Linked DNA regions of Homo sapiens. Each later gene encodes a partner of the first gene's protein in a complex. Each region holds a gene or a part of one and is shown in the gene's direction. Other genes may lie near its edges. The genes, in order: IK, SF3B3, SMU1 and MFAP1.

The links.
Region 2: IK (region 1) and SF3B3 share a complex: the UniProt entries of both Homo sapiens proteins name them as parts of the spliceosome B complex.
Region 3: IK (region 1) and SMU1 share a complex: the UniProt entries of both Homo sapiens proteins name them as parts of the spliceosome B complex.
Region 4: IK (region 1) and MFAP1 share a complex: the UniProt entries of both Homo sapiens proteins name them as parts of the spliceosome B complex.

Annotation. Positions count from the first base shown.
Region 1 is NC_000005.10:140,657,816-140,662,998, forward strand, and holds the end of IK (protein Red), read left to right. Parts: intron 1-921; coding exon 922-961; intron 962-1,123; coding exon 1,124-1,349; intron 1,350-1,499; coding exon 1,500-1,518; intron 1,519-1,940; coding exon 1,941-2,019; intron 2,020-2,299; coding exon 2,300-2,380; intron 2,381-2,942; coding exon 2,943-3,000; intron 3,001-3,804; coding exon 3,805-3,893; intron 3,894-4,083; coding exon 4,084-4,192; intron 4,193-4,363; coding exon 4,364-4,398; intron 4,399-4,486; coding exon 4,487-4,514; 3' UTR 4,515-4,665; downstream 4,666-5,183. UniProt on the Homo sapiens protein: Involved in pre-mRNA splicing as a component of the spliceosome. Auxiliary spliceosomal protein that regulates selection of alternative splice sites in a small set of target pre-mRNA species. Required for normal mitotic cell cycle progression.
Region 2 is NC_000016.10:70,568,808-70,575,838, forward strand, and holds part of SF3B3 (splicing factor 3B subunit 3), read left to right. Parts: intron 1-235; coding exon 236-334; intron 335-1,198; coding exon 1,199-1,342; intron 1,343-2,287; coding exon 2,288-2,392; intron 2,393-2,865; coding exon 2,866-3,006; 3' UTR 3,007-7,031. UniProt on the Homo sapiens protein: Component of the 17S U2 SnRNP complex of the spliceosome, a large ribonucleoprotein complex that removes introns from transcribed pre-mRNAs.
Region 3 is NC_000009.12:33,073,660-33,080,803, reverse strand, and holds the start of SMU1 (WD40 repeat-containing protein SMU1), read left to right. Parts: upstream 1-4,129; 5' UTR 4,130-4,195; coding exon 4,196-4,221; intron 4,222-6,997; coding exon 6,998-7,144. UniProt on the Homo sapiens protein: Involved in pre-mRNA splicing as a component of the spliceosome. Regulates alternative splicing of the HSPG2 pre-mRNA. Required for normal accumulation of IK.
Region 4 is NC_000015.10:43,821,660-43,828,701, reverse strand, and holds the start of MFAP1 (microfibrillar-associated protein 1), read left to right. Parts: upstream 1-4,011; 5' UTR 4,012-4,132; coding exon 4,133-4,211; intron 4,212-7,042. Other genes in the region: WDR76 (WD repeat-containing protein 76), read right to left, coding at 336-737, 1,610-1,669. UniProt on the Homo sapiens protein: Involved in pre-mRNA splicing as a component of the spliceosome.

The DNA of each region.
Region 1 (5,183 bases):
CAGCCAGATTCTGTCTCCTTAACCTACCTAAGAAGCAGTGGTCAGGTCTGAAGCATGAGGGATGGAGAGTGGGTAGCTTATGTCCTATTTATTTATTTTTTTTAAAAGAGATTTTTTGGTGAAAACCAGAAAACCTAGACAGATTCTAAAAAGGCTCTAATACTTGACCGACATTTTATTTTATTTTATTTATTTATTTTTTGAGACGGAGTCTCGCTCTGTCACCCAGGCTGGAGTACAGTGGTGCGATGTCTGCTCACTGCAACCTCTGCCTCCCGGGGTCAAGCGATTCTTCTGCCTCAGCCTCCCAAGTAGGCACTATAGGCACTATAGGCACGCATCACCACGCCTGGCTAATTTTTGTATTTTCAGTAGAGATGGGGTTTCACTGTATTGGCCTGGCTGGCCTCGAACTCCTGACCTTATGATGTGCCCACCTCGGCCTCCCAAAGTGCTGGGATTACAGGCATGAGCCACTCTTCCTGGCCTTATTTTATTATTTTTATTTATTTATTTATTTTGAGACGAGTCTCGTTTTGTCGCCCAGGCTGGAGTGCAGTGATGCCATCTCGGCTCACTGCAACCTCTGCCTCCTGGGTTTAAGCAATTCTCTTGCCTCAGCCTCCTGAGTAGCTGGGATTACAGGCACCTGCCATCACACCCGGCTAATTTTTTTGTACTTTTAGTAGAGATGGGGTTTCACCATGTTAGCCAGGCTGGTCTCAAACTCCTGACCTCAAGTGATCCGCCCGCCTTGGCCTCCCGAAGTGCTGGGATTACAGGCGTGAGCCACCGCACCCAGCCTTGACCCACGTTTTAAACAGAAGATGTTTAAAAGGGCATTAAGAGCTGGAGAGGATGGTGAAGTTCAGTGGAAATTAACTGAGGAGTATGTTCCTGACTCCTCTCTTTAAATTTCAGGGAAGCTGGAAGAGAAGAAACCTCCTGAGGCTGACATGAAGTATGTATCCTAGCCCCTGGCATCTGATCAGAGGGAGGGGGTCTGTACATTTCTTGTGTCTGGCATTTTGGGGAGGTGCTGACATGAGAATCTGGAGAAATGGTCAGGGGGAGTGAAGGTGTATGTGTGAATTTGGCCAGCTAGTGATCTCCATTTTCCCAGTATTTTTGAAGACATTGGGGATTACGTACCCTCCACAACCAAGACACCTCGGGACAAGGAGCGGGAGAGATATCGGGAACGGGAGCGTGATCGGGAAAGAGACAGAGACCGTGACCGAGAGCGAGAGCGAGAACGAGATCGGGAACGAGAGCGAGAGCGGGACCGAGAGAGAGAAGAGGAAAAGAAGAGACACAGCTACTTTGAGAAGCCAAAAGTAGATGATGAGGTGAGATGTGGGCCCTTAGTACCAGGTGATGGAGTTGCCCCTCTCTGGAAATGTGAGCAAGGTTGGGTAAGGAATTGTTTCAAACTTGGGGGAGGGATGAGTAGGAATCTCTCATGGTAACACTAACTTCACATTTTGTGTTCTTTCCAGCCCATGGACGTTGACAAAGGTGAGTTGTACACACAGCATCTCACAGTTGCTCTAGCAGTCCTGCTTTCCCCTGGTAGGGCTCAGAGCTGGCAACGGTGGGATTGGGGGACCTCCTGGTTCTGGGTTCTTGTAAGAACTGTGTCTTGCTTTATTGAATAGGTGGAGTTCCCTCCACCTTCCTGGGCCATGGCAGGGCATATTTGCTCTTAGATATAATTCCTGTGGCCCTGGGGTTCTGAGGAGGTGAGGTAGAGGTCAAGTATGGAATGTTCTGGATACCCTACCCTCATCTCAACCAGAGTGACTCATTAATTGGAGTTTGTTTAAAACTTTGTTAGACAAAAGGGTTCTATGCCTTAAAAATGTTTTTTAAGTGTGTTGTGGGGAGGAGGTTGTGAGAGCCTCAGTTCAAGGTCTGGGCTGAGTTCTCTTTTCTCCTAGGACCTGGGTCTACCAAGGAGTTGATCAAGTCCATCAATGAAAAGTTTGCTGGGTCTGCTGGCTGGGAAGGCACAGAATCATATCCTTTATTTTAATACGTTCCTGGGTTCCAGAGAACTGGTCTCTTTACTCCAACCCCCCCTGCCTCCCTGCTCCCTCCTACCCTGCCCCTCTCCTTCCCTTTTACGCTGAATTTTGACAGAATGAAACCATCCCTTGTTCCTTCCCAGAGCACCCATAACAGCTCACAGCCCACTCAGAATTTTCATGTTGGGGCTTCTAGCCCTTGGCCCCCTCCTGGCTGAAGCTTTACAGCAATAGGTAGAATCCTGTGTAGTGTTTTCTTTAACATAGCATATGCTGAAGAAGCCAGAAGACAAAAAGCAGCTGGGAGATTTCTTTGGCATGTCCAACAGTTATGCAGAGTGCTACCCAGCCACGTATGTGAAACCTGGTTAAGGAAGGGAGGCTGGGATGATTGGGAAACAAGTTGGGGGTGAAATGGAAATTTGATTCGCTAAGTCCCAGGGCTACTTCTTTTTTTTTTTTTTTTTTTTTTGGAGACAGAGTCTCACTCTGTCACCCAGGCTGGAATGCAATGGTATAATCTCTGCTCGCTGCAATCTCCATCTCCCGGGTTCAAGCGATTCTCCTGCCTCACCCTCCCAAGTAGCTGGGATTATAGGCATGCATCACCACACCTGGCTAGTTTTTGTATTTTTAGTAGAGATGAGGTTTCACCATGTTGGTGAGGCTGGTCTTGAACTCCTGACCTCAGGTAATCTGCCCTCCTCAGCCTCCAAAAGTGCGGGGATTACAGGAGTGAGCCACTGCGCCTGGCCCAAGGCTACTTCTTACTTGGATGAACTATTTTATTAGGCTCTAAGTGGGAGGTCTAGGGGGTGGTCATTCCTATGCAGATAACCTCTTAGTCGGGTAGGTTTCCAGATGAAGCATAGGGTCAGGGTATGCAACATCTGTTTAACTCTTGCTTCTCCTTAGGATGGATGACATGGCTGTGGATAGTGATGAGGAGGTGGATTATAGCAAAATGGACCAGGTATGTAGTTAGAAGGATGGTGGGCGCCTTTGGGCAGTTATTATTTGTTTTACATGTATCTCCTTCCCCACTCCTAAAAAATCTATCTCATTTACTGGGCCCCACCCTCCTTTAGCTGCAGCAGTAGAAACAGCAGCATTGAGGGTCATGAGCAGCTTAACTATTTCAGAGTCTTTGCACAAGATCAAATGACATAGGGTCAAAAATCTATTTTTTACTTCCTATAGCAAAGTGCCAGGCTTTGATTCCCATGGTAGGCAGTAAGCAAGCATCAATGCATAAGTAGAAAGGGCAGAAAAAATTGCAGTCTTTGGAAAATAACTAAATTTTATTCTAGCCAGGATTGAAGTTTTCCTCTAAGTCTTAAGCAAAATTAAAAAGAAAAAAACCACTAATGCCACTAATAGTGAAGAAGTCTGTGTTCTTCCCCTGAGTTCACTGTATTGAAATAGCATGGTTTAATCTTGGAGCCTTGTTTAATCCTGCCTCTACTGTTTATTAGTTTTGTGAACTTGCCAAGTTCTTTCACTGTTTATGCCTCAGTTTCCTCATCAGGAAAATGGAGAGAAATATAGTTCCCTCTTCATAGATTTTATGAGAATTAAGTGAGATATGCATTTAGTGTACAGAATAATGCCTGTCACATAGTAAGTATGTAATAAGCATTTATTATTACTTATCAGGGTATGATTTATGAATTGTGGAACCTGGGATTATGGGAGAGTCTGGCTTCAATCAAGGGCTGAAATTCCATTTCCACTGACATCTCTTCCTTCCCCATCCCCCGATTCTGTCCTGCAACAGGGTAACAAGAAGGGGCCCTTAGGCCGTTGGGACTTTGATACCCAGGAAGAATACAGCGAGTATATGAACAACAAAGAAGCTTTGCCCAAGTGAGTCGGTACTGAATATGGGCAGGGTGTGAGGAGGGGTGTGGGGATTTGGTGGAATAGTGCATATAAGGTTAGAGGGTGTGGTCTGGCTGAGATGTTCCCCACTAAGTTCTTTGCCCACAGGACTCTGGGAAAACCTCGCCACTGCTATGCAATCTCTGATGCATTCTTTCCCAACTGCTTTTTTCAGGGCTGCATTCCAGTATGGTATCAAAATGTCTGAAGGGCGGAAAACCAGGCGCTTCAAGGAAACCAATGACAAAGCAGAGCTTGATCGCCAGTGGAAGAAGATTAGTGCAGTAAGTAGGATGGCCCCTTGGGTGGGAGGGTTTCAGCTGGGAGAAGACATTAGCCTGCAGATTCAGGAACAGGCAAGGGGCTGGAGAGCCATGGAAATGAGAGGTCAGCCTTGGGCCTCAGGTGAGCTTAGATGGGCAGCTTGGTGATAGACTATCCTGTTGTTTTTGCAGATCATTGAGAAGAGGAAGAAGATGGAAGCTGATGGGTGAGCGGCATTATTCTTCCTCTGTGGGACTGGTGGGAATTGCTTAGTGTATTGATCTTATACTGACCCATTTCTCCTTCCATTGCAGGGTTGAAGTCAAAAGACCAAAATACTAATCACTAGTTACAACCAGAGATGCTCCACAAGGATATGCTCCCCACTGTTTTCTTTCTACAATTTCCAAAGGTTGCAAGATGTTTTTTTGTGGATGAATATAAAATTTTATTGTGTAATTACTTGGTTCCATTAAAATTGGTTAACTTGCTATTTTCTTTGTTGAGCATGTCCCCTCCAGTGCCCTTGAAGCACCAAGAACACTAATTCCACTGGTTGTGTAAAATCACATGCAGAAAGTCATCAGTCCTTTCCTGAGCTGTGGTTCTAGATTCCTAGACAGTAAGGATGCTCTCTAGCCAGTGTGCCCAGTAGAGAAGAGAATAATGATCCTCACTGATGGGCAAGAGGTGGATAGAGGAATGTAAGTATGATTGGTCTCAAATGTCAGACTCATTCCGGCCCATCTTCAGGCCTAGTCCCTGGGGAAAGATTTCCTGGGGATTGCTGTCAGCCTGATGGGCTGCTAATCTGATCTCCAGGCTATGAAGGACTGGGCTCTGGATGAAGGCATCTAATGAAAATCACTTATGGGTGGGAACCAAAACCTTTTATGAGTTTATGTACTATGAGCTTTATTAATGTTGAGTACAAATCACTGTCTCCTTGGCTAAAGGTGTAACCTTAGGGAAGTGCTTTGGGTTTAGAGCTGATATAGTGTGGCCCTGCAG
Region 2 (7,031 bases), on another chromosome or scaffold:
TTGGTTTTACCCTTAGCTGTGTTAAACTCTTGCTCATGGGTCGATTCTTTTGAGTTTCTTGCTCCTCAGACACAGCTCCTGCCCACCAGAGCAGGTGCAGGACACGTGGGCTCAGGCCTCTGTCTAGGCAGTGCCCCTGTGGCTGACTTGCAAAGACCTGGCCAGACCTGTTGCTTGGTGACTCAGGTGAGCAGGTCCGGGCCCCAGCAGTGTGACTTGTGTCACTTCCTTGTAGGTGAGGCTCCCACCTAACACCAATGATGAAGTAGATGAGGATCCTACAGGAAACAAAGCCCTGTGGGACCGTGGCTTGCTCAATGGGGCCTCCCAGAAGGTAAGATTGCAGAATGGGCCCCAGGGAGAACACTGCTTAGCACTTTTCCTGTTGCCCTCACTGAAGAAATTGCCTTTGGTGAATTATTCATAGTGCACACGACTGTGCTGAGTGCTGTCCGTCCACAGTCCTTTCTTACCAATCTGCAAAAAATCTCCTTGGAGAGTAGCGAGTTTCTTAGAGAGAGTCCATTCCCAGTCCTCTGCTCTGAGGTGTGTCCTGGGCTTTACTTTCTCCTGTAGGCATGTGCTGCTTTAATAGAGCATCTCTGGACTTTCGGGCAAATCTATTTTAGAAGACAAGCCTAGTGATTGCTGTTTTCTATAATTTTCTTTGTGTTTTCCTTTTTTATGGCAAGCTTGATAAATTTAACAAAATGATTCTTATCGTAAGAAATGATGAACAGTAACTTTAGCATGTTTTATGAGGCATTAAGCTTTAAGTAAATGTGAGAATTTTAAAATATTTGTAGGGTTTAATAATTTTTGGATTTATTGTTTGTTTTTGAGACAAGGTCTCACTCAGTCGCCCGGGCTGGAGTGTGGTGGTACAATCACAGATCACTGCAGCTTCCACCTCCTGGGCTCAAGTGATCCTTCCCACTCAGCCTCCTGAGTAGCTGAGACTATAGTACATGCCACCAAACCTGGCAGATTTTGTGGGTATGGGTATACGAGACCTCACTGTGTTGCCCAGGCTGGTCTTGAAATCCTGGGCTCAAGCAATCCTCCCACGTTGGCCTCTATAATAATTTTTGGATGTTAATAGATGATGAAATGTGCCTTAGGGAGCACTGCTTGCCCTTGGGAGTCCAGGGAGGCTCCTGAGGGTGCACACAGTCACTAGTCTGTTTGTGACTCACAGGCAGAGGTGATCATGAACTACCATGTCGGGGAGACGGTGCTGTCCTTGCAGAAGACCACGCTGATCCCTGGAGGCTCAGAATCACTTGTCTATACCACCTTGTCTGGAGGAATTGGCATCCTTGTGCCATTCACGTCCCATGAGGTGAGAGCGCCCACATTACTCTGGCCTTGACTTTTAAGGTTGTTTCTTGGTGCTGGATCTACCTAAGAGGTCAAATTCATTTGTCCCCACATATAATTAATAATGTTCTGGGAATTATAAAGTGACAGAAGTACTTGGGGAGATAGGAATCTTGATTCTCCCGCACCCAGGGAAGGCCATTTGGTTTTTTTTTTTTTTTTTGCGACGGAGTCTCACTGTTACCCGGGCTGGAGTGCAGTGGCGCAATCTCAGCTCATTGCAAACTCCACCTCCCAGGTTCACGCCATTCTCCTGCCTCAGCCTCCCAAGTAGCTGGGAATACAGGCGCCCGCCACCATGCCCGGCTAATTTTTTGTATTTTTAATAGAGATGGGGTTTCACCGTGTTAGCCAGGGTGGTCTCGATCTCTTGACCTTGTGATCCGCCTGCCTCAGCCTCCCAAAGTGCTGGGATTACAGGCGTGAGCCACCCGCGCCCGGCCAGGCCGTTTGTTTTTATAGTGTCCCAGGGTTTGCTTCAGTCTGATGCGAGTTTACAAGGTTAGCCTGAGCCCAGAGCTTTAGAACTGGACTCCACAGACTAGGATTGCCAGGATTGATGGGATGATCCCTCCTGGGGCACACACTGCCATATGGAATCAACTCTAGGTTTGCCAGAGTTTGGCATGTTTTATTCCAGCCAAGGAAGCTGGGATCAGGAATCTGACCTCACAAACCATTCTTTATGTGTGGCATTCTCTCTTGCACTGCAGACAACATGTGGTCTCCTTTTGGGGTTTAACTATCGTGTTGTAGCAGAAAAACCTGTGATTATCAGAAAGTGATTAGATATTTCCCGTGTGTTTGTGTAGTAAAAATGAATGGCTTGTCTGTTCGTTGTGCTTGTGGAAACTCTAGACTAGTTGAAATCACTTCTCAGTGACAGATTTTTTGTTTCTTCTGCCAGGACCATGACTTCTTCCAGCATGTGGAAATGCACCTGCGGTCTGAACATCCCCCTCTCTGTGGGCGGGACCACCTCAGCTTTCGCTCCTACTACTTCCCTGTGAAGGTAGGTTGGGGGAATCTGAGCTGAAAAGGGAGATCTGAGAAAGGAGCAGCACAGGGAGTGGATTGATGGGAATAGTACCAGGGAGGGTGCTCCCCTCAGGGCAGACCACAGCCAGAGCAAAGGCTTCACCTGCTTCTGCCAATCTGAACTCTGAGTACCAAGAGTCAACTTAAGATAGTGTTCCTGGATCTACAAGTGGGGTTCAAGTATCGAGTGGAGAATAAAAAGTTTTCCCGGTCTGGGCGTGGTGGCACACATTTGTGGTCCCAGCCAATCGGGAGGCTGAGCCCCAGATTTTGAGAGTGCAGTGAGCTAAGATTATCCCACTGCACTGCAACCCGGATGATAGGGTGAGACCCTGTCTCAAAAACTAAAAAATAAAAACAGCTTTCCCTACAAGTGCTGCTTTAGCATGTGCCATTTTCTTTGGGCATCTCACCATTTTTTTTCTTTCTGCTTTCTCCATATCTTAGAATGTGATTGATGGAGACCTCTGTGAGCAGTTCAATTCCATGGAACCCAACAAACAAAAGAACGTCTCTGAAGAACTGGACCGAACCCCACCCGAAGTGTCCAAGAAACTCGAGGATATCCGGACCCGCTACGCCTTCTGAGCCCTCCTTTCCCGGTGGGGCTTGCCAGAGACTGTGTGTTTTGTTTCCCCCACCACCATCACTGCCACCTGGCTTCTGCCATGTGGCAGGAGGGTGACTGGATAATTAAGACTGCATTATGAAAGTCAACAGCTCTTTCCCCTCAGCTCTTCTCCTGGAATGACTGGCTTCCCCTCAAATTGGCACTGAGATTTGCTACACTTCTCCCCACCTGGTACATGATACATGACCCCAGGTTCCAGTGTAGAACCTGAGTCCCCCATTCCCCAAAGCCATCCCTGCATTGATATGTCTTGACTCTCCTGTCTACTTTTGCACACACCCTTAATTTTTAATTGGTTTTCTTGTAAATACAGTTTTGTACAATGTTATCTCTGTGGGAGGAAGGAGGCAGGCTGTGGTGGGACTGGGTAGGGTATAGTATCACTCCTGAGTTCCACTGCTCTAGAATCTAACCAGAAATAGAAACCTAGTTTTTAAGGTGACTGGCATCCATGTGTCTTGTTCTGGAGATGAGGATGTAGGTGGGAGGTTTGAACCCAAGTTAGAGCAGGAAGAACTGAGTAGACTCCTTCCTTCCAGATACCGACTTGGACTTGCGGCACTCTGTGGCTCCCCACCCCCAGGTCTGTGGTGGTTTCTTTGTTTTTTCCTGGTTCTTTTTGCTGTGCTGATGAAACATGACCTCAATAACCATGTGTATACCCACCCCTCTTCCCACTGGGTATTGAGGAAGGGTGGCTGATTCTTCCTCCTCTTCTACTCTGAGGATGTTAGTATGGGGATTTTAGCATGAATTCTAGCTGGGGAGTCTTAACAGATGCCCCTTTTACTGATACAGCACCTAAAGCGATCTTTGGCTCCATAGGACCATAGGAAGGGTCAGTACAGAAGAACCTAGATACTGCCCTGCCCCTGAGAACTGTGTATATGTGGGGCCTGTCTGCAGCACCCATCTCAGGTGGGTTCCAGAGGGCCTTTAGGGTATAATGAGAGCCTGTTAGGTGGAAGAGGCCCAGTTCCAGAAATGTTCCAGCCCACCCCTGAGAATTCCTCCTGTTTAGTTGTGTGGGAAGCCCTCGTCTTCCAGGCTGTCCTTGCGCCTTGAACCTGGAGAAGTGAGCTCACTGTTCTCAATACTTCACAAATGTAAAACTTTCTTTCGTCTGCATGTGCTCAGCCATCTAAATTGAGCAAATGATCTGGTGAGCACTGGGTTAGAATCAGGAATGGTGGAATACAATCTGAACCTCTCAGAGCCCAGAACAGAGGGTTCCTGACACTGTGACACTGTCTCCTGGAACTAAGTATCTCTTGAATCATGACTTGGTTTTAGATCAGTCAAGAGAGACCCAGGTTTTGCCAGGAATCGAATCCCTAAATAACATGTTTTTTTCTCACTTAGCTCATGAATTTGCATAGTAGACAGTAGTTCTGAATTAGATTTTGAAAACCTAATTTCAGGGCTCATTTTTTCCTGTGGCCCTAAATCCATTCTATCAAATTGTGTGATACTGACATGCAGTCATCTGAGGAACTCAGCGTAGATACTTGAGCAGCTCCTCGCCTCTTTTCTAACTCAAGTTTGACTAAAATACATACACTCCGTACAGAAGGTAGGGGGTTATGTAAGAAAGGAAAACCTAATCTATGGAATCAGGAGTTGTCACCACCGAGCTTCCTCTGGAAGTCTGCCCATCAGCTTGCTTGTTCTCTGTTAAGAGGAAGGGCTAGGACAAGGATTTGGGCTTGAATATGTGGAAAGGAATTTTCATAGTTGTTGCTGCAGGACCTACAAAAGTTTAAAATTAGATTGGATGTGACTCAATGACAAGTCCCATCTGTGTAATTGTTAAGGGGACCTGATTGACTCCTGTGGTTTGATTGAGCAACCAGGTAAATAGAGACCTCTCTCCAGCTTTGGCAAAACCCATCAGAGGCTGCTGCAGAACTCAGACAGAGGGATCTGCCCTTGGGTTTGCTTCCATCCTGTTCCATTGCTAAGCCCTTGTGACTTGGATCCTAGGACTGAAAAGTTTTTAGCTGCCTCAGCTTTCCCCTGACCTTACTGGCAGAGGTTCTGCAGATGTTTCCTTTGGAAGATCTCTTGCCAAGAATAGCATTCCTTTGGAGGAGGGGGGTTCTAGTTGGAATGTTGCTTTTCTTGGTTAGTGTAAATGTATTGCTAGTGAGACAGCTGCCGGCGCTGGAAAAGGCTCGTCTCACAGGGAGAGTGCTGGTCCCCAGAATGTGTGCTGTTCCCACGCTGCTGCCTTTCTTGAGCTTGTTAGAGGAAAGCCAGAAAGGCATTCAGATGGGATCAGTCTGGCTTTCAAATTTTTTTTAATTCCTAAGTTCTGTTTTATTTTTTAATTTTTTAAAAAAAATTTTATTAGAGACAGTCTCTCTCTCTTGCCTAGCTGGGAGTGCAGTGGAGTGATCATAGCTCACTGAGGCTTGAACTCCTGGGCTCGAGCAATCCACCTCAGCCTCCAGAGTAGGGGAGACTACAGATGTGTGCCACCATACTCAGCTAATTTTTAAACTTTTGTAGAGACAGGGTCTCCCTGTGTTGCCCAGGCTGGCCTCGAACTCCTGACCTCAAAAAATCTTCCTGCCTTGGCCTCCCAAAGCACTGGGATTATAGGTGTGAGCCATTGCGCCTGGTCATAAATTCTTGTTTTTTTGTTTGTTTGTTTATTAGAGATGGAATCTCTCTCTCTTGACCAGGCTAGAGGGCTGTGGTGCGATCTCAGCCCACTGCAACCTCTATCTCCTGAGCTCAAGCGATCCTCCTTAGCTTCCCAAATAGCTGGAACTACAGGCATGTGCCATCACGTCCAGCTAATTTTTGTATTTTTAGTAGAGAAGGTTTTACCATGTTGGACAGGGTGGTCTCGAACTCCTGGCCTAAAGTGGTCCACCTAGCTCAGCCTACCAAAGTGCTGTGATTACAGGCGTGAGCCACCATGCCCAGCCTCTAAATTCTGTTTTCTATTCAAAGTAAAAATGACATGTGTTTGAGTCATCCACTTGCTCATTTGCATATGGAATATTGTATGTGAATATTTTATTACACCCTTAAAATTAATTTTCAAGGGCTATATGTAGAGCTCAGAAGAAACATCTCTGCTGCTGAAATCAAACCTGGTCCAAAAAACGTCACAACGGAGGAAAGGAATAGATGGCTCTCGAGGACAAGATAGGGACTCTTAAAACACCTGCTTGGCCATGGTTGATTGACATTTGAGTGATCTGGTAGCCCAACACACCCTGTGAAGTTCAGGTGAACTGAAATGGGCAGGTGTAGGCTACACACCAGTCTGAACCAGCACAACCAAGAGTTGTTTCTCTTTTTTTTCTTTTTCTTTTTCTTTTTTTTCTTTTTTTTTTTTTTTTTTTTGAGATGAAGTCTTACTCTGTTGCCCAGGCTAGAGTACAGAGGCACAATCTCGGCTCACCACAGCCTCCGCCTCCTGGGTTCAAGCAATTCTCCTGCCTCAGCCTCCCAAGTAGCTGGGACTACAGGCATGCACCACCATGCCTGGCTAATTTTTGTATTTTTAGTAGAGATGGGGTTTCACCATGTTGGCCAGGCTGGTTTCGAACTCGTGACCTCAGGTGATCCACCCACCTTGGTCTCCCAAAGCGCTGGGATTACAGGCGTGAGCCACTGCACTTGGCCAGGAGCTGTTTAAGCCATCAGGAGACATGCTGACCCACTAGAAGAGGCTGCTACGCTCATTTCTTCCACAAACGTTTACTGGGCACCTACCATGAACCACCACCTCCCAGCTCTGTTCTGCACCCAGAGGTTGGAGGAGAGTTTATAACCAGGCAGTCTCTGTCGCTGTGAGGTTGGTGGTGAGGTGAGTCTGCCAGAGGGCCTGCCACCAGTTTCAGAAGAGCCTGCAGCCTGCATCTGATTTCCTCAGCCACAACCTTGGGACTTCAGGAAAAATCAGAAGGTCCCAAGTCTGAAAAATGAAGAGGTGGGGAGTGGGCAGCAGGGGTTTTAGGTCAGG
Region 3 (7,144 bases), on another chromosome or scaffold:
TGATAAAGTTTCATTTCTCAAGAATGGTGCCCATGATCACATTGACGTGAATGCATAAACCACGGGCACAGCAGCAAATAACAAGTTCTGACTTGAAACAGGCTACTTGGCACCAGGGATTATGTCAAGCAGCATGTGATGCAGACAGAGTATAGTTTACACTCCCCACCCTCCACTGCCCCACGTTTTCTTTCTTTCTTTTTTATTTTTATTTTTATTTTTTGAGACGGAGTCTCACTGTGTCACCCAGGCTAAAGTGCAATGGTGCAATCTCGTCTCAGGCCAACCTCCGCCTTCCGGGCTCAAGCGAATCTCTTCCCTTAGCCTCCTGAGTAGCTGGGATTACAGGCATGTGCCACCATGCCCAGCTAATTTTTGTATTTTTGGTAGAGATGGGGGGGTTTCACTATGTTGGCCAGGCTGGTCTCGAACTCCTGACCTCAGATGATCCACCCACCTTGGCCTCCCAAAGTGCTGGGATTACAGGCGTGAGCCACCATGCCTAGCCTATTTTAATTTTATTATTATTATTATTTTCTTTAGAGACAGGGTCTCACTTTGTCTCCCAGGCTGGAGCGCAGTGGTGCGATCATGGCTCACTGCAGCCTCAAACTCCTGGGCTCAAGCCAATCCTCCCGCCTCAGCCTCCCAAGTTGCTGGAACTACGGGCGTGTGCCACCATGCCAGGCTAATTTTTCTGTGAAGAAGGGGTCTCTTGCTATGTTGTCCAGCCTTGTCTTGAGCTCCTGGTCTCAAGCAATTTTCCCACCTTGGCTTCCCAAAGTACAGGGATTATAGGTGTGAGCCACCACACCTGGCCAATCAATATGTGCTATTTTTTAGAGAAAAATTAATCAATTTAATTGTACCTGTAATTGACTGAATAAAAGGAAACTGAAGTGAAACCAAAAGAATTGTTGAACTTATGTAAATGTTTCTTTATCACAAAATATATTATTTTCTAAAAGATCTTTCCAAGGTTAAAAAAGGAGAGTAAGAAAAGTATTAAGGGATTGGAGTTATTATTTTGGAGCAATGACTAATAGGCATCTCTTTAACATGTTCTCAATACTATTAGGCTCAAGGACCTCCAAATCTCTTGTAACATCCCTTTTAGTGTTCTGAAATTCATAAGTAATATAATCTACTTACACATTGGGAGGCCAAGGCGGGCGGATCACTTGAGGTCAGGTGTTCGAGACCAGCCTGGCCAACATGGCGAAACCCGTCTCTACTAAAAATACAAAAATTTGCTGGGCATGGTGGTGCGTGCCTGTAATCACAGCTACTTGGGAAGCTGAGGCAGAAGAATCACTGGAACCCAGGAGGCAGAGGTTGCAGTGAGCTGAGATGGTGCCACTGCACTCCAGCCTAGGCAACAGAGTGAGACTCTGTCTTAAAAAAGAAAGAAAAATCTACTTACGCAGATAATGAAAAAATCAATATAATGCTAAATATATAGGAAAAATAAAAATAAATTAATTTGTTATAAAATAGAGTAATATGTAGTTCAATATCAAAATCCTAGGGTGTTACTACAAAAGACATAATGAAGCAATAAGATGCTCACATCTATAAATAATGAACAAGCTTGGATGTAATAGGAGTCATAAGAAGAGAAGCCATTCCATTCAAAATGAAAGCAGAGGTGTGGTGGATATTAGAATAAAACCTGGTGTTAAGTAATCATAGAGAAGATTTATTTGTATAAACAAAATAGAGAAGTAACCTGAATTTAAGAGTAACATGACAAGTACTAGGTAGAGAAAATGAGGACATATGCTATTGTTGCGATGAGCTGGGTCTTCTTTTCAAGGAAGAAGTTATAATAATTTTGTGCTGTTATGGGATAGAATAGTGAAGGAGTATCTCATAAACCATATAACCCATGTTGATATCTCACTACATGTCAAGGCAAGCATGGAGACTCTAAAACATTTGAAACCTTGGAGACCATGTCCTTCAAGAATTGATAGGAAATAGAGGATGATTTGACAAAAGAAGCAGTATTTAAGAGGTTATGGACAAGTTGTATGGCAGACCTTTAGGCACAGAATCAGATAAGACTGAAAGCCATCAGGAAATCTACAAATACATCATTTCAATATGTAATTTCGGAACACAGATTTATTTTATTTATTTATTTATTTATTATTTTTTGGTCACTCGGTCACCCAGGGTGGAGTGCAGTGGTTCGATCTCTCCTCACTGCAACCTCTGCCTCCCGGGTTCAAGGGATTCTCCTGCCTCAGTCTCCCGAGTAGCTGGGATTACAGATGCACACCTATCTGCCTGGCAAATTTTCTTATTTTTAGTAGAGACGGGGTTTCACCATGTTGGCCAGGCTGGTCTCCAACTCCTGAACTCAGGTGATCCACCCGCCTCAGCCTCCCAAAGTGCTGAGATTACAGGCGTGAGCCACCACGCCTGGCCAGATTTATTATTACTGTGCTGCAAATAATTTTTACAATTTATATACAACAGCAATAAAATATTTAAAAATAGGTTTTATGTATGAAGTTCACTGATATCTCTACATTTCATTTGTCACTACAAATGTAATAATGTGTTTGACCTAAAGTCCCGTGACAGGGCGTGGTGGCTCATGCCAGTAATCCCAGCACTTTGGGTGGCTGAGGTGGGAGGATTGCTTGAGCTGGAGGGGTCGAGGCTGCAGTGTGCCACGATCGAGACACTGCACTCCAGCATGGGCAACAAAGCGAGTCCTTGATTCAAAAAAACGCAAAACCAACCAACCAACCAAAATCCTCAATTAACTCTTCCTATAAATTTTGGCTAGTGTTATGTTGGTTTTGAATGTATTAATATCCCATCAGGTATTGCATATTCAGCCTCATCTTAAATCTAATCAACTAATTACATCAAACGAAAGCAACATTGGCTGGGCGCAGTGACTCACGCCTGTAATCCCAGCACTTTGGGAGACCGAGGCGGGCGGATCACGAGGTCAGGAGTTCGAGAACAGCCTGACCAACATAGTGAAATCCCATCTCTACTAAAAATACAAAAAATTAGCCTGGCGTGATGGCAAGAAACCTGTAATCCCAGCTACTCCGGAGGCTGAGGCAAGAGAATCTCCTGAACCCGGGAGGCAGAGTTTGCAGTGAGCCGAGATCGCGCCATTGTGCTCTTCAGCCCGGGCGACAGTGCGAGATTCCGTCTCAAAAAAAAAGCAATCTTTCCAAACCAGTGCTCTTTCTTTTCTTTCTTTTCTTTTCTTTCTTTTCTTCTTTCTTTTCTTTGCTTTTCTTACTACAATCTTATCACCACTACTTTTCTTTTCTTCTTTTGAGACGGAATTTTGCTCTCCTTGCCCAGGCTGGAGTGCAATGGTGTGATCTCGGCTCACCGCATCCACCTCCAGAGGTGAAACGATTCTCCTGCCACAGACTCCCGAGTAGCTGAGATTACAGGCGCCCCCGCCACCACGCCCGGCTAATTTTTTGTATTTTTAGTAGAGACGGGGCTTCACCATGTTGCCCAGGCTGGTCTCGAACTCGCGCGCTGGGAGTACAGGCGCGAGCCACCGCGCTCCGCCCCAGCGCTTTTCTTTTTCAGTACATTTGTGAGCTGTATGGCGCCCGGTGCTTTTTTTCTTTTTCTTTTCTATCTTTCTTTTTTTTTTTTTTTTTTTTTTGAGACGGAGTTGCGCTCTTGTTTTCCATGCTGGGGTGCAATGGCGCGATCTCGGCTCACCGCAACCTCCGCCTCCTGGGTTCAAGCGATTCTCCTGCCTCAGGCTCCCGAGTAGGGATTACAGGCATGCGCCACTACGCCCGGCTAATTTTGTATTTTTAGTAGAGACGGGGGTTTCTCCATGTTGGTCAGGCTGGTCTCGAACTCACGACCTCAGGTGATCGCCCGCCTCGGCCTTCCAAAGTGTTGGGATTACAAGCGTGAGCCACCGCACCCGGCTCCGGCCTGCTTTTAAACAGTCTTCCTCCTGATGCGTATTTCTCTGGGGCAGGGGCATAAACTCCGCCCTCTGACAGCCCCTGAGGGCTCCGCCCCTACGCGAACCTCGCCCCTACTCTTCGTTCACTCTATCTCCAGAGCGGGAGCCAGACGCCGACCCAAGCGGAAGTGACGTTAGGTGTCCGCCGGAGGTGTCGTTGGTGTGTTGCGCGACTGGCCTTGAGGGAGAGCTGGGGCCTGCTCCCGGAGAGATACGGCTATGTCGATCGAAATCGAATCTTCGGAGTGAGTCCTGCGGTGGGGATGTTCGCGCCTTGCCGGGGGCCTGGAGGTTAAGGGTGTGGGGCGGAGGGTACTCGGGAGAAGGCATCCGAGAGGCCAGGGAGTGGAGGGCCATTTCCTTGCCCCCAAAGAAGCATCTTGGATCTCGCTACCTCGGAGGTGGGCCCACAGGAAAGTAGCAGCTCTCAGACGTGAAGCCCAAAACCTCGAGGGAGGTGGCACGGGTGGGGAAAACACACCTTGCAGACCTAAGTTCTGTCCTTGGCCGACTGCTGGCGCGCTGTGATTGACCAAATTAAGGATCCACTCTGGACTCCAGTCTAATTATCTGCGCAAGGGGATAGGTCTCTTTAAGCCTTGCTTCTCTCCCTGTCCAGCTTATGCAATGTGATTCGTTGTCTCTGCTTATACGGCCCCTTTGCTTTTCTCTGCCTAGCGTTTATCACTCAGTATTGTCACTGTTTGATAACCTCACCCCAAACTAGCCTTTGTCGGTGCCTAGGAGCTCCTTTTCCTTGTGGTCTCAGTGTCTAGCATACCTTAGAGGAAGAGTTAATTGCTTTTGGAATGAATGAACAACTAGCTTTTGGAATGAATGAACAACTATCAGGCCCGATCTGGCACGGAATTTTGGGTTGTCTGGGGAGAGACAGACTGGAGACTGGGCTAGAAAGAAAAATTTTCAAGGAATAGGGGATGAGAATTAGTGACTAAAGAAGACCTTAGTGTGCTTTTCCAGAACTCCATCCTCCACCTGTCCTTGCCAACACTTAATAATAATTAAATTAACAGACATAAAAATTGTGTCTGAGTGTAAGGGAGGGAGAGGACCTTTTTTGGAGACTTTTCATAGGAGGAAGGGAGGTTTATGCATTCAGCAAATACTGAAATGATGTTAACCTACTTGTCCAAGGTCACATAACTTTGATTCAAATCCCAGACTATCTTCAAAGCTTCTAGCTCTTTATGTATTCATTTCTGTTTGAAGGTAGGGAATTTGATTTTGGCTATGTCAAATGTGAGCTGTTTGAGGAGAGAGATGACTTATTTTGGGAGTGTAAAATGGAAGTCAACGGACATGTGCTAAGGAAGATAGTATCATAGCAGAATAACAGGGGTCTAAGTCTGGATACCTGCATACCTCATAAAGGGGCCATGAGAGAAAAAGACTACTGCAGGTAGCAGCAATCAGTTCCCTTTTTTTTTTTTGAGACGGAGTCTCACTCTGTCACCCAGGCTGGAATGCAGTGGCGCGATCTCCGCTCACTGCAAGCACCGCCTCCCACGTTCACGCCATTCTCCTGCCTCAGCCTCCCGAGTAGCTGGGACTACAGGCGCCCACCACCATGCCCGGCTAATTTTTTTGTATTTTTAGTAGAGACGGGGTTTCACCGTGTTAGCCAGGATGGTCTCGATCTCCTGACCTTGTGATCTGCCCGCCTCGGCCTTCCAAAGTGGTGAGATTACAGGCGTGAGCCACCGCGGCCGGCCTATAGTTGTTTTTAAGAAGAGGGGCCAGGTGCGGTGGCTCACACCTGTCATCTCAACACTTTGGGAAGCTGAGGTGGATGGATCACTTGAGCCCAGAAGTTTGAGACCAGCATGGTCAACATGGCAAAACCACGTCTCTACAAAAAATACAACAATTAGCCAGTGTGGTGGTGCATGCCTGTGGTCTCAGCTACTCGGGAGGCTGAGGTGAGAGGATCACCTGATCCCAGGAGGCCCAGGCTGCAGTCAGCCACAATCACGCCACTATTCTGTCCAGCCTGAGCGATGCAAGTGACCATTTCTCAAAAAAAAAAAAAAAAAAGAGGATGTTTGCTTTCTCCTCAGGAATACATGCTCTAGAGCCACACTGCCAGTTTGAGTCCTGATTTTTCCACTTATTATCTCTATTATCTGATCAAATCCTCATCTGTAAATTGGGGATAAAAGTAAACTTACCTCATAGGTTTTATTTTATTTATTTTTTTGAGACAAGGTCTTGCTCTCTTTCCCAGGCTAGAGTGCAGTGGCATGATCACGGCTCACTGCAGCCTCAACCTTATGGATACAAGCAATCCTCCCACCCCAGCTTCCCAGGTAGCTGGGACCACAAGCACACACTATCATGCCTAGCTAATTTTTTTTTTTGTGTGTGTGTGTGTGTAGAGAAGGGGTCTTCTTATGTTGCCCATGCTGGTCTTGAACTCATGGGCTCAAGGGATCCTCCCACATCAACATCCCAAGTAGCTGGGACTACAGGCACATGCCACCATGTTTGGCTAATTTAAAAAAAAATTTGTAGAGATGGGGTCTCACAGCTGCCTGATCTGGTCTCAAACCTCCTGGTTTCCAGCCAATCCTCCTGCCTCAGCCTCCCAAATTACTGAGATTACAGTCATGAGCCAGCATGCCCAACCTCATTTAGATTATTTTGTATAAATAACTAGTCTAGTCATTTAAAGTATTTCAGTGAAGTGTGCTACAATATAATTACAAGAATGAATAGGAAACTAGGCTCTGGATTAGGAAATAAGATAGTCACCTTGACACCAACTCCCTTTCTAGCTGACTGAGACATTAGGCAAATGATTTCCTTTCCTTGAACCCCAGTTCTGTCTCTATGGTTAGGGGGGGTCCCCTTATAATTTAGATTCTGTGATTTTGGAAAATTTTACTCACATGATAAAGAAATAGTAGTGAAAGGAAGATGATTGAGTAGGAGCTTGATAGGCTTTATTTTTGACCTCTGGTGAGTGAGAATCCCTGAGCTGAACGATTTGTTTTCTTTCAGTGTGATCCGCCTTATTATGCAGTACTTGAAGGAGAACAGTTTACATCGGGCGTTAGCCACCTTGCAGGAGGAGACTACTGTGTCTCTGAATACTGTGGACAGCATTGAGAGTTTTGTGGCTGACATTAACAGTGGCCATTGGGATAC
Region 4 (7,042 bases), on another chromosome or scaffold:
GATATACTGTACATAAACATGTAAAGGTGAGAAAGGCACCATAAAGTATGACTAAACCCAAAAATATATGCAGTTAGTTTAGAGAAAGAAAAAAGGAAGCAGAGTAAAGATTAAGTCAATCCTTTCATTGACACATCAACAGCAAGAGCAAAAATAACCCAAGGAAGTTATTTGTTAAACCTTAAAAATAATAAAAATGTATTATTACATTTATACTTACATTAGATGATGAAATAACTTGTTTGTACCAGAGAGATCCTCGAAAAACTTCGATTTATCAGAACTTCAAATTTCAAAAAAGAGAAACCAGAACAAGCTACTAATTAAGTTCTTACCAGGGATGGTGTGGTATCTTCATCACTGTCTCCATCCTGACTACTTTCCACATCAACACTGAGATTCATCGCATCTGCCGTTCTCTTGGGTTGTAGCTTGTTACTTTCAGTATGAACAGCTGAGGATGAATTTTGCAGCGTGGATTCTGCCTTGGAAGATGTGTTTTTCATCTTTGGAGGTATAATCCTTCTGCAAGTTTTCTTTATTTTAGTCTTCTTACACGCCACTTCATTGTTAGAATTCTTTTCTGATAGGGATTTGGGGCACATAAGCTGGTCTAGCTGGTAATTACTGAGTGAAAAGGGGGCAAGATAGACCTTAGCTGTTTTTATTAAAACTGTAGTCTGTGCTGGTCTCAGAGACACATAAGCGATGTTTTGATTTTCTTTATATTCATTTACCTATTCAGATCAATAAAAGAAAACAGAATATTAGAACTCCAAGTCCTGTGCCTTTTCTTACAGGATCCCTAACAGATCTAATAATTCCCATTTCCCAAAGACAATATAAATCCAAATTGAGGCCAGGTGCAGTGGCTCACGCCTGTAATCCCAGCACTTTGGGAGGCCCAATCGGGCAGATCGCGAGGTCAGGAGATCGAGACCATCCTGGCTAACATAATGAAACCACCTGTCTCTACTAAAAATACAAAAATTAGCTGGGCATAGTGGCACACGCCTGTAGTCCCAGCTACTCAGGAGGCTGAGGCAGAAGAATCACTTGAACCCGGGAGACGGAGGTTGCAGTGAGCCGAGATCACACCACTGCCCTCCAGCCTGGGCAACAGAGTGAGACTTAAGCTCAAAAAAATAAATAAATCCAAATTGACACCCTTCGTAAGAAAACTTATTTTCCCCTCCAAAATCCTAGATATGTAATTCACTAACCTTAACCTCAGTAGAATTCACTTACTGGGCACATTTGCCCATAAGTTTTCCAGACCAATAATAATAATGACTAGCATTTGTGACTGGGGCAAATACCCCAACTGTCAGCTGCGGATTGTCTGGAATTATTTAAAGAGTGTGAAGCCGATCATAACTGTGGCAGAAGAAAACGCAGAAGGTTGAAGAAAGGGAATCCCAGATGTGACTCTCCCACTATTTCTCGGGTTATTGATAAGAACCTTTCGTCAAAGCTGAAGGCCTAAGGGCAGGGATCCCCCGCCTACCCCCGGTGCCAGGTGCCCTCGACCTCCTGGGCCTGTGTCCCGCATAACCCTCACAAAAACCGAGGCAGGAGCACACCTTGGAAGCACCAGTCCGTTTCTCACCTTCATCTGGGGTCGCTGTCTGGAGTCCGCCTTCTCAGCCGCCGCGCCCGACCTGGACATCTTTCGGCTTCTTAGCGGCCGGCGCCTTCCCGCCAAGATTGCGGCGGGAGGCCGGGAGGGGCGGGTCCGAGGCGGGGCGGAGCCCACTCAGATCCCCAGCGGCCGCAGCGCCAGAGCAGGAAGTTGGGGTTTTACGCGCGCTTCTTAAGAAGGCCGCCTTGGCCAGGCGCGGTGGCTCCCGCCTGTAATCCTAAGCACTTTGGGAGGCTGAGGCGGCGGATCACCTGAGGTCAGGAGTTTGAGACCAGCCTGGCCAACATGACGAAACCCCGTCTCTACTAAAATTACAAAAATTAGCCGGGCTTGGTGGCGCGTGCCTGTAATCCCAGTTACTCAGGAGGCTGAGGCAGAATTGCTTGAACCCAGGGGGCAGAGGTTGCAGTGAGCTGAGATCGCGCCATTGCACTCCAGTCTGGGCAACAAGAGTGAGACTCCGTCTCAAAAAAAAAAAAATGCTGTCTTAAAGCCCTAGACTCAAATTCTTTAGGGATGTCCTGGGGCTGAACTGACATTTTTACCTTTGACTGGTGATTTTGATTCTGGTGGTACTGGGATGTCGCTTTGAAAAACACTAACAGGCCGGGAGCGGTGGCTAACGCCTGTAATCCCAACACTTTGAGAGGCCGAGAGGAGTGGATCACTTGGGCCCAGGAGTTCCAAACCAGCCTGGGCAACATAGTGAGACCCCATCTCTATAAAAAATACAAAAATTAGCCCAGCGTGGTGTTGTACGTCTGTAGTCCCAGCTACTCAGAAGGCAGGGGTGGGAAAATGGCTTGAACCTAGAAGGATGAGGCCACAGTGAGCCGTGATTGCGCGGAACTCCAGCCTGAGCGACAGAGCAAGACCCTCTTCTATAAATAATAAAATAAGATTCTGGCTATTCTCTTTAAGGTTCCTTCTAGCCCAAAACTGTTTCCTTGGTTGCTTAGTTGGGTCCCACACTGTTCCTTGCCTGAGATTTGTCCAGTTTCATTTCTTCTCCCACTCAAGGCCCAATTGTAGAACACAGGTGAAGTAATTTGGGTTAATCATATTAATAGCAACTTCAAGGCCCCTCATGACTCAAAAATTACTGATAAAACCAAACTTTTCATGGTGTCCTGTATAAAACATACTGTTTCTGGACTTTAAGACTTTGTTCCTACTGTCCCTTGTCTCCCCCGCAGTTATAAAGTCCTTTCTACTGTGAAATGTGTCCTGACTTTCCAATTAGCCAATATTATATATATTTTTTAACACGACTCAGCTTGTAAATTGGAGCTGCTTCTGTTATTATCCTGTAAGTCCTTAAAGAGTTCTTAAATAGGCCGGGTGCGGTGGCTCACCTCTGTAATCCCAGCACTTTGGGGAGGCCGAGGTAGGTGGATCATCTGAGGTCAGGAGTTCAAGACCAGCCTGGGCAACATGGCGAAACCCTGCCTCTACTAAAAATACAAAAATTAGCCGGGAGTGGTGGCCCACGCCAACACTCAGCACTGTGGGAGGCCGGAGTGGGCGGATCACTTAAGCCTGGCCAACATGGTGAAACCTCGTCTCTACTAAAAATACAAAAATCAGCAGGGAGTGGTGGCAGGCGCCTGTAATCCCAGCTAATCAGAAGGCTGAGGCACGAGAATTGCTTAAACCCGGGAGGTGGAGACTGCAGTGAGCTGAGATCGAGCCACTGCACTCCAGCCTGGGTGACAGAAAAAGACAGTCTCAAAAGAATAATAATTACTTAGATATTTAAATACAAACATTTTCTAGCCAGGAATGTATTTTAATAGGTAGTTTCCAGAAACTGGAAAAACCTGAAAGCCTAAAAAAGTGGAGTTTTGGGATTTCAGGTGGGCAATGTCCCAGGCACCTCGGGAGTTTTTTTTTTTTTTTTTTCGGTCACTGGCCTAAATCAGCACCACCTGCCCTGTGAAACCAAATACCGCACCACAGCCCACCCTGGCCTTATGAACTAAGCTAATCGGATACTACTGGCAAGATTTTTATTCCATCAAACTCTACTTCTTCTGAGCTTTCAACAAGCCATTCAAACAGTAACTCACTGTCGCCTGAGTTTCTTATTCACTATACCGTTCTTGGCTTCAAACCAAGCTAACACGTAAAATCTTTCATTCGAACCTTCCTCACCGCAGAGTCCTAACAGCAAAGCCCAAAGGAAGCAAAATTTCCCGCCAAAAGCTGCTTCCAAATTCTGCGACGTAGAGGACATGCGGGCAGCCAATGAGCATGCGCAGAAACCGACTCGACTTCCTAGCTGTGGGCGCCCAAACGTCGTCCACCATCCCACAATCCTCTCGTCACGTATTTCCGGTTTATCTAGCTCAGCCGTAAGTAGTTTCTCTATCAGTCGCGCAGCTGTGTTCGCGGACTCAGGTGGAAGGAATTTCTTCTCTTCGTTGACGTTGCTGGTGTTCACTGTTTGGAATTAGTCAAGTTTCGGGAATCACCGTCGCTGCCATCAACATGTCGGTCCCAAGCGCTCTCATGAAGCAACCGCCCATTCAGTCTACGGCTGGGGCCGTCCCAGTTCGCAATGAGAAAGGTACGGTGCTAACACCCTCTTCCCAGTCGAATTTTAACCCCTTCCGGCCCCAGCAACCTCCAGACCTCTCCCGGACAGACCACTCCAACCCCGCCAGCTCTTGAGATCTGGCTGCCAGATTCTTCGATCTTTCCACCCCCACCCACTTGCATCCGATCTTGTTCCTGTGGCCTGCTCTCGTATTCAGCAAGCACCTCTCTTCTGTTAGCCTCCACAAATTCCTTAGACTAATGTTACATATATATAATATATATTACACATATAAAAACATTAGGAACTTAAGTATATATCAGAATATATATGTCTAATATATATATGCTAGAATATATGTATTAGTCTAATATATATTATGATTAGAATATAATATCACTAATTACATATAATTACAAGAATTTATGTATTATTAGTGTAATTACTTAGGAACTTAAGTATATTATTAATCTAATAATTAGGAACTTAAGTATATATCAGAATATGTATATAATATCAGACTAGATAGATAGATAGAGAATGCCTGTTGGCAGGGCATTGTGCGGGATACAGTCCCTCTTTTGCTGTCCATAGAAGTCTGCTTATGCTGCCCAGGCTGGACTCGAATTCCTGGGGCTCAGGCTGTCCTCCTGCCTCAGCCTCCCGAGTAGATGCCGCCGTATCTAGTCTCAACATGGCTTTTGAGAATTATCTTTGGATCCCTATACATCTAATTCATTCATCTTAACAGCTTATGAATTCCATTGTATAAAATAAACTGTAATCCACACTTTATTCCCTACTGAGAGGCAGGTGGTTGTCCCCTTGTTCAAAAAAGTGCTGCGGCCAGGCACGGTGTCTTATGCCCATAAACCCAGCACTTTGGGAGGCTGAGGCGGGCTGAACACCTGAGGTCAGGAGTTCAAGACAGCCTGGCGATCATGGCGAAACCCCGTCTCTACTAAAAATACAAAAAATTAGCCATGCATGGTGGTGGGTACCTGTAATCCCAGCTACTTGGGAATCTGAGGCAGGAGAATTGCTTGAACCCGGGAGGTGGAGGTCGCAGTGAGCAGAGATCGCACCATTGCACTCCAGCCTGGGCCACAGTGTGAGACACTCTCTCAAAAAAAAAAAAAGAAAGTTCTGCAATTGTCATTCTCTAGCCAATACTAGCTTTATTTAGTACCTGTTGCCAATTGCTCCCCAAAGTAAGTTATAAGAACATAAGAATTTGTGGAGCACAGTGGCTTACACCTGTAATCTCAGCACTTCGGGAGGCTGAGGCAGGAGGATCGCTTGAGGCCAGGAGTTCAAGACCAGCTTGGGCAACATAGCGAGACCACCCCCCACCCCCGCCAATCTCTGCAAAAATAAAAATTAGGGCCCGGCGCGGTGGCTCACGCCTGTAATCCCAGCACTTTGGGAGGCTGAGGCTGGTGGATCACCTGAGGTCAAGAGTTCGAGACCAACCTGGCCAACGTGGTGAAACCGTCTCTACTAAAAATACAAAAATTAGCCAGGTGTGGTGGCAGGCGCCTGTAATCCCAGCTACTCGGTAGGCTGAGGCAGGAGAATCACTTGAACTCAGGGGGCAGAGGTTGCAGTGAGCCGAGATCGCACCATTGCACTCCAGCCTGGGGGACAAGAGCAAGACTTCGTCTCAAAAATAATAATAATAATAATAATTAAAAATTAGCGGGATGTAGTGATGTGCTCCTGCTACTTGGGGGAAGCCAAAGCAGGAGGATCACTTATGCTCGAAAGTTCAAAGATGCAATGAGCTATGATTGTGCCATTACACTCCAACCTAAGCAACAGATCAAGACCCTGTCTGTTAAAACAAAGGCTGGGCGTGATGCCTCAGGCCTGTAATCCCAGCACTTTGGGAGGCCGAGATGGGTGGATCACCTGAGGTCAGGAGTTTGAGACCAGCCTGGCCAACATGGTGAAACCCCGTCTCTACTAAAAATACAAAAATTAGCCGGGTGTGATGGCGCACGCCTGTAATCCCAGCTGTTTGGAAGGCTGAGGCAGGAGAATCACTTGAACCCGGCAGGTGGAGGTTTCATGGAGCCAAGATCATGCCACTGCACTCCAGCCTGGCCAACAGAGCAAGACTCTGTCTCAAAGAAAAAAAAGAAAACAAACTTTGAGAACCTAAGAGCTTTATTTCCCATATATTCATCATCTACACACTTGGTTGTATCAGATTTTTACATTTTTTGCCCAATCTAACAGGTGTGAAATGGTATCTCATTATTCTAATTTGCATTCCCCTGATTACTAGTGATGCTGGGCTTTTTTTTTTTTTTTTTTTGAGAAAGAGTTTCACTCTTGTTGACCAAGCTGGAGTGCAATGGCTCCATCTCGGCTCACCATAGAGCTACTGCGTCCGGCCGATGCTGGGCATCTTGTTCATGTGTCTAATAAGCTCTCTAGATTTTCTTTTCCATGAATTACCTGTTTCTGTCAGTTACCCACTTTCTGTTTGCTTTGTTTTTATATATTCCAAATCTATAGTATACGTTTCCCCATTTTTTGGCTTGTCTTTTAATTATGGAGTCTTCTCTTACACACGTTTCTAGTTTTAGTATTATCAGATTTATCAACTTTATCTTGTATGGTTTTAGCTTTTTTTTGTATATCGTTTAAGAAATAATCCTTCCCTGCACTGAGATCACAGATACTCATATTGTAAAGGTTTTCTATCTTCTGAGTGTTTGTATATATTAAATTGAGTTGAATACACACTTATACAAGACAGATTATAAGTTAGCTTACAGTCCAGTAGGGAATGTAAATATTTAAGATAAGTTTTTCATAGTTGCGTCTTTAATCCATCTGGAATTTTTGTGTCT